Linked DNA regions of Homo sapiens. The protein of the gene in region 3 purifies or fractionates together with the protein of the main gene of each other region. This does not show direct contact. Each region holds a gene or a part of one and is shown on either strand. Other genes may lie near its edges. The genes, in order: POTEI, CNRIP1 and C20orf203.

Region 1 (5,497 bases), on a different chromosome or scaffold from region 3:
CAAAAAGAGTTAAGCAAAACAAACAAATGCACAATTCATATGATTAACTGAGTGTTCTAATGGTAAGGAGGAATTAAAAGCAGCTGGTGGGTAATCTTAAATTTTAGTCATTAAGGAAAAATTTTAAGACAAAACTCTAATTCAGCTACTTACCTGGAAATAAGGCTCAGACTGGGTGATCATTCTCTGCCATCTTAGAAGCTGGAAAAACTTACACTCACCTTCCCTGTCAGAAGCAAGCTGAAACTCAGGAAAGGAGGTGCCTGCTCTCCTTTGTCAATGGAAGCAGGAAAACTTGCCTTCCTTGTTGGAAATGAGTAAAACTTCAAAAAAGGAGTTGTACAGCAAAATCAACCTTACATCTCAACCAAATTTTCGGAGATCAGGGACTCTGTGAAGGGGAGAAGCTCCACAACCTCAGCAAATTATCCTATTGGTTTGGGCAATACAAATAGCCCAGGTTGGTATCAAGCAATAATGAGATTTATCAAAGGTCAGGACCACCTTTGTAATGTCCTTCTCTTTTTTTATCTTTATTGGTAGAGTCTGTTTTGTCAGAAACTGGGAGTGCAACACCTTTTTTCTGTTTTCCATTTGCTTGAAATATTTTTCTCCATTCCTTTATTTTGAGCCTATGTATGGCACTGCACGTGAGATGGGTTGCTTGAAGACGGCATACTCCAGTGGGTCTTGGTTCTTTACCCAGCTTGCCCCGTGTCTTTCAATGGGAGCATTTAGCCCATTTACATTTAAGGTTAGTAATGGTATGTGTGGATTTTATCCTGTCGTCATGCTGTCAGCTGGTTATTTTGCAGACTTACATATGTGCTTGCTTTTTAGCATCATTGGACTGTGTACTTCAGTGTGTTTTTGTAGTAGCAGGTGATGATCTTTTCTTTCCATATTTAGTGCTTCCTTCAGGAGCTCTCGTAAGGTAGATCTGGTGATACCAAATTCCCTCAGCACTTGCTTGTCTGAAAAGGATCTTATTTCTCCTTCACTTATGATGCTTAATTTTGCTGGACATGAAATTCTGGGCTGAAATTTCTTTTCTTTAATGGCAGTTGATGTGGGTTGGGGTGTGTGCTGCACTCCTGTGTGCTCTCAGGGCAAGTAAAGCAAAACCCACCCGTGTAAACACACACAGCAAAGTGATTTAGGAAGTTTCCAAATAAAGGGCTGCCGTATGGAGAGGCAATGTGCAGGCTGGTGCGTGGCTCTAGGGGCCACCTTGCTGCAGCTCTCCACTGATATGGTACAGTCCACTAGCACGGAAGCTATGGTGTGGGCATCTAAGAGTGCCCCGTAAGCAGGTGTGGCCAGGCTGGGGCCATGGGAGAGGCGAGCAGACTAAGGAGTGCTGAGATCAGACCAGCCCCATCTCAAGTGCAAGATTGCCCAGCCTCCAGAGATCAGGTCTCAGAGGAGAACTCTCTCAAAAGTGAACCCCCAGCACAGCACAGCCGCTCTACACAAACGTGGCTAGACTTCTTTTATTAAGCAAGTCTCCTTTTTTTAAAAAGGGAACTCTCGGACCTGATCTCTGCTGGGCAATCTTGCATATAAGATGTGGCTGGTATGACCTCAGTATTCCTAAAGTGCTGGGATAAAGTGTCTCACAAGGGCAAGTGGACCCTAGAGAGACAGCCATCCCTGACCTCTGGGCTCCACATCACCTGACTTGCTGCTCCACCACTTTGCTTGTTTCCTGGGTGCTCCATCCCAGAGACATGTGAGTTAGCAATCACTTAGTGTAATCAGCCCAGGATGGAGGGTCTGTGCTGTGGGCCCAAGCCAGGGTTCCCTGTCTGGTGATGAGTAGTGGAGGGTGTGTGGTACCCGTGGGAGATGGACTGGCTTGTTCTTTGGGTCAACTGCAGCTTATTGGAGGTGTTGATAGGGCACTTAGGGTCTTTGCTCCCTTGCATCTTCTGAGGGCAGCAAGGGCAGTTCCACTGCAGAGGCAGTGGCAGAAAGGATTTCATTTGCTCCTGGAAGCTCTGTCCCAGGAACTGCAGAGTTGCTACTGGCTTGATAGCTCCAGTGGTGGGCTGGCTAGAGACCCAGGCCAGGAGGATCTGCCCATCAAGTAGAGAGCCTGGCCACTTTTCTGTAGGGCTGCTGTGGTATGCTGGGGGTCCCCTCCAGTCCCTAATTGCCTTGTATTTTCCAGGGAAGATGATAGTCTGCCCCTTCCTCTGGAAGCTCTGTACCACTGAGGTACGAACCTGTTGCCAATCTGAACACACCTATAAGATGTGGCTGGAGGCAAGTTGAGAAGTCTTACCTAGTCAGGACGAACAAGAACAGGGACTTGCTTCAAAAAGAAAAGTCTGGCCACGTTTTTATAGAGCAGCTGTGCTGTGCTGGGGGTTCACTTCAGCCCCTGGTCCGCCTCAGACACTCTGAAGCCCTAAGGCTGAAATGCCTGGGTCGCCCCAACAGCAAAGATGACAATCTGGTCCTCCCCCTGGGAGCTCTGACTCAGGGAGGCCTGAGACCTCTGTCGGCCAGAGAACAGCAGTCAAGGTAGCCAGAGACCCTGGTTGAAAGACTTCACCCACTGACTAGAAATGTGGTCAGGGACTGACGTAAACAAGAGTCTGGCCACGTTTTGGTAGCGTGGCTGTGCTGTGCTGAGGTACCTCTTCCACCCCTTGTCAGCTTGGGCTCTCCAAAGCCCGCAGGCCAGAATGGCTAGTCACCGAAAGAGCAAAGGTGGGGGCCTGCCCCTCTCCGGGAGCTCTGTCCCAGGAACATTTCACATTTCCATTGGCCAAGGAATGCTGGTGGGGGTAGCTGGAGGCCCCAGTTGGGAGGTCCTGTCCAGTGAGATGGAACAGGATCAGGGGCCTGCTTACAGAAGCAGTCTGGCCATGATTTGGTAAAGCAGCTATGCTGTGCTGTGGGATCTCTTCTGTCCCTCGTCGGTTTGTACTCTCCAAAGCCCGCAGGCTGGAATGACTAAGTTGCCTGAACGGGAAAGATGGCGGCCTGCCCCGTCTTTTCTCTCAGAGTTTTATCTTGTTTCATGGAGCTTAATTTTTAGCCTGTTGATTTTACTGTCTACGTTAGACTTGTTGAGAAAGAATCTGTTCTCTTTTAGGTGAGATAAATGAGAATTCATTGTCTTCTGTAAATAAACCTGTTCATGTCTTGTTCTCTGGAAAGAAGTCTCTTTCAGCTATCTGACTTTGGTCACAATCATGTAGAGCAGCAGCCAGTCTACAATGACGTAATTGAATTTCCATTTCCGGTGTTTCCTCGTTGTGTCTTACATTGTCCAGTTCAGAACTGAGCATTTTATTCTCAGTTGTCAACATGCTAAGCTGTCCACTGTACTGAAATACTGTGCTTCCTCAATTTTTTTTAAGGTGTGCACTTTTATCCAACTCTCCTCAAGTCAGAGTACAGGTAAGCCCTGGCTGCCTCCAGCCACTCTCAGGGAGACCAAAAGCCTTCATACACCCCAAGTTGGGGTACAAAAGAGGGGGGCCACGAAGGCTGATCATTCAAAATAAAACAAAATTAAAAAGTATTAAGGCGAAGATTCAAAAAATTTTGCATTATGTAATCTGCACAAAAGCAATGCTATCACCTCCCCTGTGTGAACTAGGGAGAGGACTGGGCCATTCTCCTTAGAGAGAAGTGGGGTGGCTTTTAGCAGGGCAAGGGGCTTCCTGAAACAATGCGTCTCACAATATTTGGAATGACTATTGAAAAGAAGAACAATGTACAATCAAAGTCCTTGGCCACATTGTAGAACTTTGGAGGAAGCTTCCTCCAACCGACTGCTGTCACCTTCACCATTCCGGTTTTTAAATCCTGAGTCAAGCCAATAAAAAACAAAACAAAAAATGAAACAAGAAAACAAATAAAGCCATGCCAATCTCATGTTGTTTTCTGAGAAGTTTGGTTTTGTCAAGAAAGGGTGTAACGCAACTAAGTCAGAGTCCACCTAGAAGCATTTGCGGTGGACAATGGAGGGGCCTGACTCATCATACTCCTGCTTGCTGATCCACATCTGCTGGAAGGTGGACAGCGAGGCCAGGATGGAGCCACCGACCCACACGGAGTACTTGCGCTTGGGAGGAGCAATGATCCTGATCTTCAACATGCTAGGCGCCAGGGCAGCGATCTCCTTCTGCATTCTGTGGGCCATGCCAGGGTACATGGTGGTGCCGCCAGACAGCACTGTGTTGGTGTACAGGTCTTTGCGGATGTCCACATCAGACTTCATGATGGAGTTGAAGGTAGTTTCATGGATGCCACAGGATTCCATGCCCAGGAAGCAAGGCTGGAAGAGCGCCTCGGGGCAGCGGAACCACTCGTTGCCGATGGTGATGACCTGGCCATCGGGCAGCTCGTAGCTCTTCTCTAGGGAGGAGCTGGAGGCCGCCATGGCCATCTCCTGCTCGAAGTCCAGGGCAACATAGCACAGCTTCTCTTTGATGTCACGCACGATTTCCCGCTCGGCCATGGTGGTGAACCTATAGCCACGCTCGGTGAGGATCTTCATGAGGTAGTCAGTCAGTTCCCGCCCAGCCAGGTCTAGGCGCAGGGTGGCATGGGGGAGGGCATTCCCATCATAGATGGGCACAGTGTGGGTGACCCCGTCACCAGAGTCCATCACGATGCCAGTAGTACGGCCAGAGGTGTACAGGGACAGCATGGCCTGGATGGCCACGTACATGGCTGGGGTGTTGAAGGTCTCAAACATGATCTGGGTCATCTTCTCGCGGTTGGCCTTGGGGTTCAGGGGGGCCTCGGTCAGCAGGATGGGGTGCTCCTCAGGGGCCACACGCAGCTCGTTGTAGAAGGTGTGGTGCCAGATCTTCTCCATGTCATCCCAGTTGGTGATGATGCCGTGTTCCATGGGGTACTTCAGGGTCAGGATGCCTCTCTTGCTCTGGGCCTCCTTGCCCACATAGGACTCTTTCTGATGCATGCCCCCCATCATGCCCTGCTGCCTGGGGCGCCCCACGATGGAAGGGAAGACAGCCCGGGGGGCATCGTCGCCCGCAAAGCCGGCCTTGCACATGCCAGAGCCGTTGTCAATGACGAGCACGGCGGTATCATCATCCATGGTGAGCTCATTCAATTGTAGAGCCTTTAAAAGATTATCATTCTTTTTTTTCACACTTTCAATATCCTCCAAATATTTCTTTTTTCTTAGCTGGCTCTGATGTTTCATTGTGTCTAGCTCCAGTCTTAGCATGGCAATTTCTTCCCGCAACGTACTATTTTCATGCAAGAAGTCTTTTTCTTTCTTACAACTAAGAGAAAGCTAAGTAAACAAAGAGAACTTTTAGTTAGCACTCAATAGATTGACATATCATTATTTCTTCTGAAATTCAAAAATAACATGTATTTGTATAATGAAAGAATCCCCATAGTGGATATTTAACTGGAAAAAAATTGGACAAAACTTCAAACCTAATAAGAGTGTAAATTCCTCCAGTGATTTATTTTTCATCGCCTTTAAATAAATATTTAA
Region 2 (7,899 bases), on a different chromosome or scaffold from region 3:
ATCAGAAACTTTTCACAGCCAATTATCTAAACCAGTTCTGAAGTAGACTATAACTGGGAAAATGGCAATGTAGGTTCTGTCTCTTCCAGAACCATCTGCTTCTGCTTATGGTGTCTTTTCAGCATCTACAGGGTCAGTCTGTCATGCAAAAGAGCATTAATTAAGTAGTTCTCTCTCCAGCAGATGCTTGAAGGAAATCCACAACTCAATTTCCACAGTAATTGGCTCCCAACACACCTTTTCTTACAGAGAGATAGTGATTGTTTTCTTTTCTGTGGTTTCCATTTTCCATGGCACCATACTCCTATACCCGCAAGCAAGCCTTACCGGCATGGTGATCTGGATGGGTTGCCGTTCTCCACTCTTCGTTGGGGTCACACCTTCTGTGTCATATGTACCCGTATAAACAACTCTGTCCCCATCAGGCTCTTTAGACTTCAGTTCCAGTGGGACAAGCACACCACCAATGGAAATATTCCTGCAATAGACTTGAGTTGACCACATACGGTTGAAATTAGCCTAGGCACCCTGTCCTGTTTTGGACCAAAACTCTAGGCAGGAAACTTACAGGGTTTCACTAAGGGGGGCATTGTGGTGCGGGAGAAAGTTCTGCAAGTTCAGGGGGCAGTGCTTCTCCTATTTATGAATTAAAAACCTACCTATCCCCAGCCCCAGACATTAGGATTCAGTTGGCCTGGGATGTAGTTTGGACACTGGTACATTTATTTTAAGGTTATCTAGGTGATCTTAATATGCAGGTAGGATTGAGAATACTGAACTCGTCCTCTAATATTTTTTTTCTCCTGTTCCAACAATCAGGGGTCCTATGATTTGGAGTACCTCAAGCCTTCTACACCATCAGAAATTCTCACTGGCATCATTCTTTTGTGTTAGGATAATGGTTCTCAAAGCCAAGTCCCTGGACCAGCAGTATCAGCATCACCTGCAGACCTTAGAAAACAAATTCTTAGGCCCTACCATAGACTAAACTAGAACTTCTAGGGAGAGCTCCAGCATCTGTGTTTTAACAAGCACTCCAGGTGATTCTGATATATACTCAGGTTTGAGAACCACAGGATTAGAGTTGAGAAATCCTTGATAGCATTAAAATGTAACCAGAAAAAATAGTTTTATTCCTAACAAATTAACTTTTAGATTAGTTTGAACACTAGAGGAATACTCTAAAAAAAAAAAAAAGAAATATATTAACAGATAACTCCGGGGATAAGGTTGGCAGGAAAGAAGGGAAAGGAAAAGCCTGGATTATATCCAGGTGCACAGAACACTGGGAAATGTGAGAATAAAGGGTGCATGGAGCTGTGGGGGATGCTGACAAATAGATGAATCAGGAGTACCAGAAACCATCCAGATTTGGTTCTAGGTCCTTGCACCTTGGAAGGCTAATACAAGTTTACTGAATTAAAACGTAAGCTATAAGTAGTATCTGATGAATTCAAAGTCCTTCCACCCCCGCAATAATGCCCACCATATGTAGTAGATACAATAAATGCTGGTTTATTTTCTCTCTGCAGACTAGACTTTGGTAGGTAGAAACGAGAGGTAAAGGGGCTCCACCCGCAGTTCTTCCGGGTAGGCTACTGCATGCTCCCACACACTTTCCCGCCAGAGGTCTACTGGGTGCATTATCCAGCGGTCGCTGGCAAGAAATCGTCCCTGCCATGGATAAACCAAAAAACATCCTCTTGCTGTGGGGATGTTGCTAATCCCAGGCACCATCACCAGCCTGAACAGAAAACTCAGGAGAAAAAGAACAGCATACGGCATGGAAAACCGTGAAACTAGGCCAGAGAAGGGGCGGCCGCTCTCTTACTAGTGTCTGCTGCTCCACCCCAGGGTCCCAGCCACTGAATGGCGAAGGGAGTGGGGAGCATCCCTCAGGGAGCCCCAGTAATCACCCCTCCCCTGCCTTTCCACCTCATTCCTCCTTTCTCCCTCCTTCAGCCTTGCGGGCAGACCCTGTGGGCCGCCTGGACCGCGCGCAGGAGGGCTGGGATTGCGGTGGCTGAACCCTGCGGACCTCTCCCATCTGCTCCACCCCGACCGCCTGCGGTTCCGCGCCCAAGGCTGGACAGAAGGCAGGAGAAATTTATAAGAAACAGACAAGCAAAAACCCTGGCTTCTTGTCACTGATTTTAAAGAACCCACTGAGGTCACTGCGATGGGTGGAGGGAAGCGAGAATGGAGGAATACAAGCCAAAGGGAAGGAAGGGGACGAAGGCGGACAGGGAGTGACCTCTTCCTCCAACCCCCGGGCCCGCTGGGAGCGGCGCGAGGCCAGAGGCCCTTGAGAGGCTCGGGCTGTCCTGGGGGCCTCAGTCCTCTGCCTGTACCCCATGGGGGACCCTGCTGCCACCAGGCGCCCCGCACTCACTCGACCTGCAGCGTGCTGGGTTTAATCTTCACCTCAACCTTGTAGGAGGAGCCGGTGAGCAGCTTGATGGTGCGGTTCTGGCCGAAGCGCTGCCCGTCCACCTTGTAAAAGACCGGGCCGTCATTAGGCTGGATGCGCAGCGCGATGGAGAGGCGCACGAGGCCCGGCAGGTCCCCCATGTCTGGGCGAGGGTCTGGCGCGGCGGCTCCGGGGGGCGGAGGACAGCGCCGGCTGCGGCCGAGTGGCTGGAGCGCGAGGGGCGGAGAGGAAGCGCGGGGAGGGTGAGGGAGGTGGTGGAGCTGAGGCTGCCGCTAGGAACCCGCGCCGTCGCCGCCGTCCGCCCGGGCTTTTGAGGAGCAGCTCCTTAGGCTGTGGCCCCCCTCCCCACTCGGCGAGGAAGCGGGCCCAAGAGACGGCTCCAAGGCCGCGCGCTTCCCCATCCCCCGCTCCAGTGCTGCGCCCTCCACGCACCCGAAGGCTCGCTCTGGCCCGCAGGCCGCCGCGCAGATCCGCGCAGCTGGGGGCGAGGGAGTTAATCCTGTTTACGCACCACAATCCCCTTCAGCTGGGGAAGCGGACATTTAGGCTCCTCCTAGAACAGCCCCGGGCAGGAGGAGGAGAGGTTTGGGAGGCACTGGGAAGGCGCTGGAGTTAAGCGACCACTATGCCAAGGAGCGAGACCCCCGGAATCTGGATACCGCCTCGGCCAGCTACGTGAGGTGGACACTGCTGCTCGCGGATCCGGCGCCAGCCAGGCGGGAGGAGGCTGAGGGGGGGTAAAGGGAGGCGGGAAGGGGGGACAGGAAACCGCTAGCCGGTGATTTAAATTTCAGGAAATATGAGTCTTTCCAAAGCTTAGGGGAAATGGCCGAGGAAAGGCGCAATTCCACGTGATGGAGCCACGCTGGATGAGGAATGGATGCAAGAGGAAGAAAATAACCATATTCAAGGAGCTACATCTTCTTGTGGGTGTACATTTCCATTATACGTATGCTCGTCCCAAAAATGACACATACATAAATATATGTAATGAATCACATATATTTACACAGATTTTGAAGGGTGAGCTATTAACCCTGTAAAAGGCAACTGACATGAGCCTAAGGCATTCTGGTGACAAAATGGCCAAGAGGTGGGATGGGTCAAAGGATTATTGGCAGGGGGCCATATGCGACACCGCAGAGTTTAGATTTGCATATTAAGCGTGATTAGACAGTTTTCGTGGCAGAGGTCGGTAGACAGCTGACTTTTGGAAGCGAGGGGAGACTCAGGGGGTGAGGACTATACTGGGAATGGCTTCCCGGAGCAGAGAGAGCACCTGCTTCAGCACCACCCAGATGGATAGTACCAGAGCCAGGGAGCACACCTGGGAAATGAAGTGGGCTAGTGAGAACAAATGGGTAGGGATGCGTTTCCTTGGCAGTTTTTGTTTACCCAAGTTAGACTGCTCTTTTTTAAGAAATAATAAGCTATACATATAATATATATGTAATATGGGTGTTTATTGCAACATTGGTTGCAAAAATAAAAATAAAACCTAAATGAAATGTTAACCAATAAATAAATGGCTGAATAAATTCTTATATACCCACACTATAGAACGTTACACAACTATCAAAATAATGAAATATAGGTTGCATTGGCAAACACACAGGCAAAAACTGTTAATGATAAAAGTGGGATGGCTGGGAAACAAAGCCTGAGGGCGAGCATTTTGTCTGTTTTGTTTGTTGCTGTTTCCCCAGCATGCCAAAATAGTGCCTGACACATAGTAGGTGCTCCAGAAATCGTTGTTGAATTGACTTACGGTTGTGGTCTTAATCATGTCCATATGTAAATTCTTTCACATCTTTAAAATTAATTAGATCCTTGCGATTTACCTGGAATGATGAAAAGAAATCTAATTGCAAGTAGCATCTCTAGTGTTTTAGAAAAATGAAAATTTAAAAAGAATATAAATGTGTATGTTTGTATTAGCTCTTTTAAAAGAATGAGAGAGTTACACAGTAAACTTAATGTTGGTTATTATGGTTTATGAGTAGTGGAAAGAGGGTGAGTATCTTTTTGGGGTCATTTAAAAGCCTTTTTGGAAATTTTGCCTTTTTTCCTCAACCTTTTGTTTAGCAACCCCACAATCTCAAGCCAACTTCCACCTGTGTATCAAAAAGAGCATTGGACCTGGAGGATGATGACTCCATTTTAAAACCTGGTTCTAAGGCCGGCATGGTGGCTCATGCCTGGAATCCCAGCACTTTGGGAGACCAAGGAGGGCAGATCATTTGAGGCCAGGAGTTCAAGACCAGCCTCGCCAAAATGGCAAAACCTGTCTCTACTAAAAATACAAAAAATTAGCCAGGCGTGGTGGCGCATGCCTGTAGTCCCAGCTACTTGGGAGGCTGAGGCATGAGAATCGCTTGAGCTGGGGAGGCAGAGCTTATAGTGAGCCGAGATCATGCCACTGCACTCCAGTCTGGGCAACAAAGTGAGACTCCATCTGAAAAAAAAAAAAAAAACCCACACAAAAACAAAAACAAAAACTCTGGTTCTAGCCTGGCTAGGTAGTGCACTCTTGCAGTCCCCACTACTTGGGAGGCTAAGGTGGGAAGATCACTTAAGCCGACGAGTTTGAGGCCAGTATGGACAAAATAGTAAGACTGCCATCTCATAAATAAATAAAATAAAAAAAACCTAACTCTGCCACTTTTTAGTTTCGTTATGCAAATAACTTAACATCTTTATGTTTCATCTTTGTAAAATGAGGATTAAAATACCTCCTTCCCAACATTGTGAGAATTGAATGAGGAAATGGAAATTGTTTGAAAAAAATAAATTACTTTTCAAATACGAGGTGTTACTAATGCTGGGCAATATCCATTAGGAATAGCATTTTCAGGACCATACAATGTAATGTCTTAAAATGAAATTAATAAATGTAAAAGTAATTGGAAAATTTATCATCACTGATACATATGTGCAAAGAATATGAATATGGAGTCTGATGGATCTGTGTTTGTGTTGCCAGATCTGTGGATTACAAACTGAGTGACCTTGAGCAAAGCTGCTTTAGTCTCTTGGAGCCCCAGTTTCTTCATTTGTAAAATGATGATGGTGACATAGATGATGCATATAGAACCAAATGAAATTGTGTAAACTATGCAAGAATATCAGGCCCATAGAGACACTCAATACATTGTAACTATTTTTATTTAAAAATATACTTGCTGAATATGTAGCAACTTTTAGTTTAGATTCAGGTTTGTTACTGGAGCGTATTGCATGATGCTGAGGTTTGGAGTAGAAATGATCCCATCATCCAAGTCCTCAGTGTCTATTGTTACCAATGGAATGAAGACTACTAGCCAGGGAGGGAGGGAGACAAGTAAGGGTTGAAAAACTGTTTTATGTCCATGGGTACCCAATGGTTAGCACCCACTAAAAATGAGAACATGCGGTATTTGGCTTTTTTTTCCTGCATTAATTCATTTCTTGCTATATATTTTTAAGGTATCTAGTGCTTTCAGTCTTATTGTAGATTCTTTAATTATTACCTCAGATTGGTGATCTTAAACATTGTCTGTCTAATGGACAATGCTTATTATCATTCTTTTGAAAACTGTGAAATTGAGCCCAAGTGAACGATGGACTTAGTTGTCATTCAGAGGAATCACATGCTATGGTTCAAACGATTCTCCTGCCTCAGCCTCCCAGCTGCTTGTGTTCCCCCAAAATGGCTATGTTGAAACCGAATCCACAAAGCAATAGTATTAAGAAGTGGGTTCTTTTGGAGGTGATTAGGTCATAAGGGCTCTTCTGCCCACGTGAATGGGATTAGTAGTACCCTTGTAAAAGGGGCTTGAGGGAGGTCGTTTGCCCCCTTCTACCATGTATGGATGCAGCGGGAATTTGCCATCTATAAAGCAAACAGTGAACCCTCACCAGATACCAAATTTGCTGGTGCCTTGACCTTAGACTTCCAAGCCTCCAGAATCGTAAGCAATAAATTTCTGTTGTTTATAAATTATCCAGGCTAAGATATTTTGTTATAACAGCATGAACAGACTAAGACATTGTGCTAACAACCGTTCCATATTCGCTGTTCCAGTCTCTGCTGAATTCATAATATAGAGTTCAAAAACAGTTAGAATTATGACACAGGACATAGTTGTGTGCATGTATATGAAAATAACGTAGTTAAGAGTGCTGGGACTGGGTTATACACATACATATGTATACACTCAATTATGTCATGTGTCATAATGTGTCCTGGGCTTGGGTTATACACACACACAAACACATATACACAATATAATACCAGCACATTTAACAATGTATTTTCCTTTGTATTCATGTTTGCATTCAGGTACAGTTTAACATCTGCAGGAGTTATTTCTTATTTTTATTCTTAAATTAGTGTCAATGATTTATGAGGTGCTTGACTCCTTCCCTTTGCCTACCTCAGAATGTCTTAGCATTAGAGATCTTAACTGGTACATTTTACATTTTATTTTATTTTATTTTACTTTTATTTTTGAGATGGAGTCTAGCTCTGTCACCCATGTTGGAGAGCAGTGGTGCAATCACAGCTCACTGCAACCTCTGCCTCCCAGGTTCAAGCAATTCTTATGCCTCAGCCTTCTGAGTAGCTGGGATTATAGATACGTGCCACCATGCCCAGCTAATTTTTTTTGTATGTTTTAAAGCAGAGACAGGGTTTCACTATATTGGTCAGGCTGGTCTTGAACTCCTGACCTCAAGTGATCCACCTGCCTCAGCCTCCCAAAGTGTTGGGATTGCAGATGTGGGTCACAGTGCCCAGCCAGGTACACTTTACATTTATATCAGGGCTTTCTTTCTGGCTAGATTTAACAGACATAAAGACAAAGCCATCCTCCTGGACCAATTCTGAAGAACCTAGGTCCTCCCTTAGACCCAAAGGATTTTGTAGCCATGGCAATAAGCAGTAGACCTCATTTGTCTGCTAGGCTCTTAGGGGATCTGGTTACCTCCTTATACAGTCACATGCACCTTGGTCAGGTGATGGCGATCATAATGTCAGTTTCGTATTTTGTTCTGGGCCAATTTAGCATAGCACTTTATGTTCCAAATAATACTTTTGCTGTTTCCCTACATAAATGTTATCTTTCCTGAACAACCAGGACAGCTCCACTCACTTTTTCTCCACAAATGAAAGTAAATACTCAATTAAAACTAGATTCCATGAAGATAGTTTTCTACTTTTCCTGTTCTTGACTCCTTTTGTGAGGCTGGCTAGAGTTCCATTGAAAAAGAACACAAACCTCCTTACATTAGGTGGAAATATCTGTATTATTTCTACCACACCGATACTTCTAATTTTATATCTCCAGGTTCAAACATTTGTCTAAGTTCCAGATTCACATAACCAACTCCTGACAGAATATCTCTACATGCGTGTCTGATAGGTTAACAGGTGTCCCAAGCATAACATGGCTAAAAGTGAATTCTCAATTTTTTTAACCTCAAATTCA
Region 3 (4,940 bases):
AGGACCCTGAGGGGGGCCTGGGGGCTGGGGGAACTGTGCCAGATGGAGAGAGAAAGCAGAGGGCATTCAGACAGGAACGGCAGGAGTCAGAGCACGTGGGCTCACTGTACACGGGATGGGAGGACGACACGTCATTCCGGGTGGCTCCCTGGGGGTTTTTGCTGGGCTGGGAGGCATGGCTCAGGAGGATGCTGGAAAGAGAAGTTGTGGCCTCATGGAGTTGCCTCCTAGAATCTGTCTCTGAAAATGAAAATGTGAGACTGGCCCACCATTACAAAATCAGAGAACACAGGAATGTTTATTTTAGACAGGGTCTTGCTCTGTCACCTAGGCAAGCGATCCTCCCACCTCAGCCTCCCGAGTAGCTGGGACTACAGGCACACACCACCATGCCCAGCTAATTTTTGTATTTTGTAGAGACAAGGTATCCTCATGTCCAGGCTGGTCTTGAACTCCTGGGCTCAAGCAATCCCCCCACCTCAGCCTCCCAAAGTGCTGGGGTTACAGGCATGAGCCATGGTGCCCAGCCGAGGAAATGATTATTATTATTTATTTATTTTTCTTTCTGAGATGGAATCTCACTCTGTCACTCAGGCTGGAGTGCAGTGGTGCGATCTTGGCCTTCTGCAACCTCCATCTCCCGGGTTCAAGCAATTCTGCCTCAGCCTCCCGAGTAGCTGGGATTACAGGCATGTGCCACCATGCCTGGCTAATTTTTGTATTTTTTAGTAGAGATGGGGTTTCACCATGTTAGTCGGGCTGCTCTTGAACTCCTGACCTCATGATCTGCCTGCCTCGGCCTCCCAAAGTGTTGGGATTACAGGCATGAGCCACCGTGTCTGGCCCATTTTTATTTATTTATTTATTTTGAGACACGGTCTCACTCTATTCCCCAGACTGGAGTGCAGTGGCACAATCTTGTCTCACTGCAACCTCCGCCTCCCAGGTGATTCTCCTGCCTCAGCCTCCTGAGTAGCTGGGATTACAGGCATGCACCACCATGCCCGGCTAATTTTTGTATTTTTGGTAGAGACAGAGTTTTGCCACATGGGCCAGGCTGGTCTCAAATTCCTGGCCTCAAGTGATCCGCCCACCTTGGCCTCCCAAAGTGTTGGGATTACATGTGTGAGAGACCGCGTCTGGCTGAAATTATTTTTAAAAAGGAACTACAACCCCCAGGTTAGTCCATCACCAGAGATAACCACTGTGAAGCATTTGACACATTTCTTCCTAATATCATTTCATATATATATATATATGCATATGTAGGTCTCCTAATAAAAAATAGTTTGCCTCTTGCTGTCTTTTACCTACAGTTACATCAGATGCATTGTCTGGTGCCTTTAAGTAGTCTCTGAAATCTGACTCCTCAGCCTTTTGGATGACTCCAGCCGGTGGTGGCCCTTTGACAAGTGTGGCCCCTTCTCGTGGCTGGGCACAGAGGCTGTTTCACTCGTTTTCTGTGATAAAAACACCGCAGTAAACATCCTCCGTCCTGCGTAACTTCATGTCCACATTGCTGATTGTTTTGTTGTGTTTTTTTCTGATAAATTTCTGGACATGAAATTCTCGGAAGCCCTGCTGGGCCCGGAGCTGGCTAGGTACTCGGGAGGGTGCTGGGCTTCCTAGAGCCACGCGTCCACACCTGAGGACAGCTTGGACCCAGCTGTAAGGAACAACGTGCACTTCTTGAATGTCTCACGCTGTCTTCCACCGCTTTGTCCATGATGTCACAGTACCTCTCGCCTCCCCTCCCAATGCCTGTCTTGCTAATTCTTTCTTATCTTTCCAGACTCCAGCATAACCTTCTCCAGGAAGCTTTTCCAGAGCCCCCAGGCTAGGAACCTCCCCCCAACCCCTGAACTCAAGCCCCAGCAGCCCGTGCCTGCGCCATCTCCATCAGAGCTGCATCTCTCTGGGTCTCTGGGTAACAAGTGCCATTTCTTTGTTGTTTTCTGTGTCCCCCAAGGACAAAGCTCAGGCTGGATTCATCTCGGAATTCCCAACACCGGGGTAGAACTGGCTCATTTCAATTTCAGTCAATGTTTGTTGAGGAAAGGAGTGAAGAGTTGGACACATGAATGAACGCATGAAACAGTCCGGAGTGGGGAAGCTGAAGCTCAGGCATCAGGATCCGGGAGAAGCATCCAGTCCAGGCGGACGGGGTGGAAGGTTCAGAGCAGGGGCCCCAAGTCAGGAGTAGGGAGGCAGACGGCAAGACCTCCTTCCATGAAAGGAGGCTGGGACCAGGGGACCAGGTAGTGCAACGCGGTGAGGGGGCTGTCAGGGCGACTGGCCGGAGGAGTCAGAGGCAGGAGGCACCACCAGGTTACAGACAAGGACCTTCTACAAGAGGGAAACGTGTCATGGGCTCTGGAGCCCCTGTCCAGGTTCAAATTGTGACCCTGTGCCAGGGACAGCTTCTTTGTGCCTCAGTTTTTCCCATAAAATGAGGATAATAATACTTCATTCATGCCTTTTTTTCCCCTCAACAAACATTTGTTGTATGTCTGCTGTGGGCCCAGGACAGGAGGCTGAGAAGGAGCTGACCACAGTGGTCACACAGCCAAGCCCTGCTGCTGAGATCTGACCCCAGTTCGCCTGTCACAAGTTCTATCTGTGCCTCGTTGTCTGCCTCCTGGGGCTGTTATGAGGGCTGAAGAAGGGGCAGGCACAGAGGAGACACTTACTATATGATCATTGTCCTCCTAGAGTATCATCACCATCAGGTGGACTTCAGTGGCCATCCCAGGCCTCCACGGATCAACCACAAGATCTTGGAGAATGTCCTTACCCTCCAAGCCTCAGTTTACCTTTAGGGTGACCAACCATCCTGGTTTGTCCAAAACTGAGGGTTTTCCTGGCACAGTCCCAGGCAAACTGGGATGGTGAGTCACTGATATAGTTTGACTCTGTGTCCCCACCAAATCTCACCTTGAATTTTAATAATCCCTAGGTGTCAAGAGCAGGACCAAGTAGAGATAATTGAATAATGGTGGCAGTTTCCCCCATGCTGTTCTCATGATAGTGAGTGAGTTCTCACGAGATCTGATGGTTTTATAAGCAGCTTCCCCCTTTGCTCAGTATCACTCTCCCTCCTGCCGCCCTGTGAAGAGCTGCCTTCCACCATGATTGTAAGTTTCCTGAGGCCTCCCCAGCCACGCAGAACTGTGAGTCAATTAAACCTCTTTTCTTTATAAATTACCCCAGTCTCGGGCATTTCTTCACAGCAGCGTGAGAACAGACTAATCCCGTCACCCTGGTTTCCTCATCTCTAACACAGGGACCACCTGCCTCCCAGGGCTGTTGTGCAGAACAGAAATAAGCCTATGGAAAAGGCAGAAAACCATGGAGCCAGAATTCTAGATCTGGTTACATGAATACTAAAGACTTTTGCATGCCATGGAATTCTAGGCATGAAAAAGAACGAGGCGGTCCCGTGTACTGCTGTGGAAGAAGCTCTGAGATACATGTTTTTTTTGTGAAAAAGGCCAGATACAGCGCACTTTGTGGGGAGCGCTTCTGTTAGTACCAAGGAGGGGGCAGGAACACACGTGCATGTGCTCCAGTGCGCACATGGGTTCTCCCGGGCGGGGACTGGGGGCTGAGGAGAAAAGACTTGTTTTTCACTGTACATCCCTTTGCTTTGTTTGAATTATTTTACCCCTTTGTTTTCAGTAGCTGGCCGAAAAACTTCCCAAGCTTCCATGTGTCAAAAAGAACTCACTGAACGAGATTTAAAGGCCAAAGTTAGGGAGTAGGAAATGTGTCTAGCTCAGGGCCCAGCATCTAAGGAGTGCTCCATGAAAGGCCTTCTCCCCTCTCCCACTCCTGACCTTGCTGACTGCTGGGAGTGCAGGGGCACAGACGGGCTGTTGCCTCCCCCAGTGCGGTATTTGTGAGGCTCAAATGCAAGCCCAGGCTGGGGAGACTGCTCTGGGTTCCACGCGGCATCCTGCCTAAGCCCTGGGGGTCCTAGAGGTCACTGGCTCCCTTCTCTGCCTGCATGTCTCAGGTCGCCCTCTGGCCAATTCTGAAGTCCTGCCCTGCCTCAAGGAGCAGAGGTGGCAGAGGTGGGCCCACCGCACAGGGTAAATGTCCCGGTGTCACATACCTCCAGATTGCAGGGACCTGCGTATGCTACTGCTGCTGTGGAAACCAGCTCTCTCTGGCTCTGGCCTTGGGGAGAGGGAGCCACAGTGGATTTAGGAAGAGTCTCCAGATGTAGCTTGAGACTACCAAACAGGCCTGACCCCCACAGACCCTGCCTCTTATGAGCGCCCAGACTGAGCCCTGCTTCAGGCTCCCAGCCATGTGGCCAGCTGCTTTTCTTCTTTAATTTTTAGCATCAGACGAATATTTCAGGAAAATATTCTCATTGTAAAATCTCAAACATTAATAAAATGTAGTGAATAAAAGGCCATGTAATTCCTCTTTACCTCCTGAGCCCCATTCTGTTTAAACCATTGTTGTCAGCTGGTCAGTGTATATACCTATACCTATGCCATGCCTATACCAATACCTATACCAATATCTGTAACTATACCTATGCCACTACCTATGCCTGTGTCGTGCCTGTACCAACACCTATACCTAGACTATCTATATTTATATCTGTTTAGATGTGCATATTGTGTTTAGGTATGCGTCTCACGTGAGTAGTAACATTCTGTATGTTTTGTTCTGCAAGATGCTTTCTTTTTCTTTTTCTTTTTTTCTTTTTTTTTTTTTTTTTTTTTTTTTAGATAGAGACTCATTCTGTTGCCCAGGCTGGAGTGCAGTGGCTCAATCTTGGCTCACTGCAACCCCTGCCTCCCAGGTTCAAGCGATTCTCATGCCTCAGCCTCCCAAGTCGCTGGGATTACAGGTGCACACCACCACACCCAGCTAATTTTTGTATTTTTAGTAGAGGCGGGGTTTCACCATGTTGGCCAGGCTGG

What was found.
Region 1: the proteins of C20orf203 (region 3) and POTEI purify together in Homo sapiens (affinity purification with mass spectrometry; 3 studies listed by BioGRID and IntAct, with this or other methods). This does not show direct contact.
Region 2: the proteins of C20orf203 (region 3) and CNRIP1 purify together in Homo sapiens (affinity purification with mass spectrometry; 3 studies listed by BioGRID and IntAct, with this or other methods). This does not show direct contact.

The regions. Positions count from the first base shown.
Region 1 is NC_000002.12:130,458,858-130,464,354, forward strand, and holds the end of POTEI (POTE ankyrin domain family member I), read right to left. Parts: intron 5,288-5,497; coding exon 3,959-5,287; 3' UTR 598-3,958; downstream 1-597.
Region 2 is NC_000002.12:68,316,830-68,324,728, forward strand, and holds the start of CNRIP1 (CB1 cannabinoid receptor-interacting protein 1), read right to left. Parts: upstream 3,121-7,899; 5' UTR 2,572-3,120; coding exon 2,393-2,571; intron 489-2,392; exon of another isoform or gene 479-488; coding exon 328-478; intron 1-327.
Region 3 is NC_000020.11:32,631,123-32,636,062, reverse strand, and holds the end of C20orf203 (uncharacterized protein C20orf203), read left to right. Parts: intron 1-1,792; 3' UTR 1,793-4,438; downstream 4,439-4,940.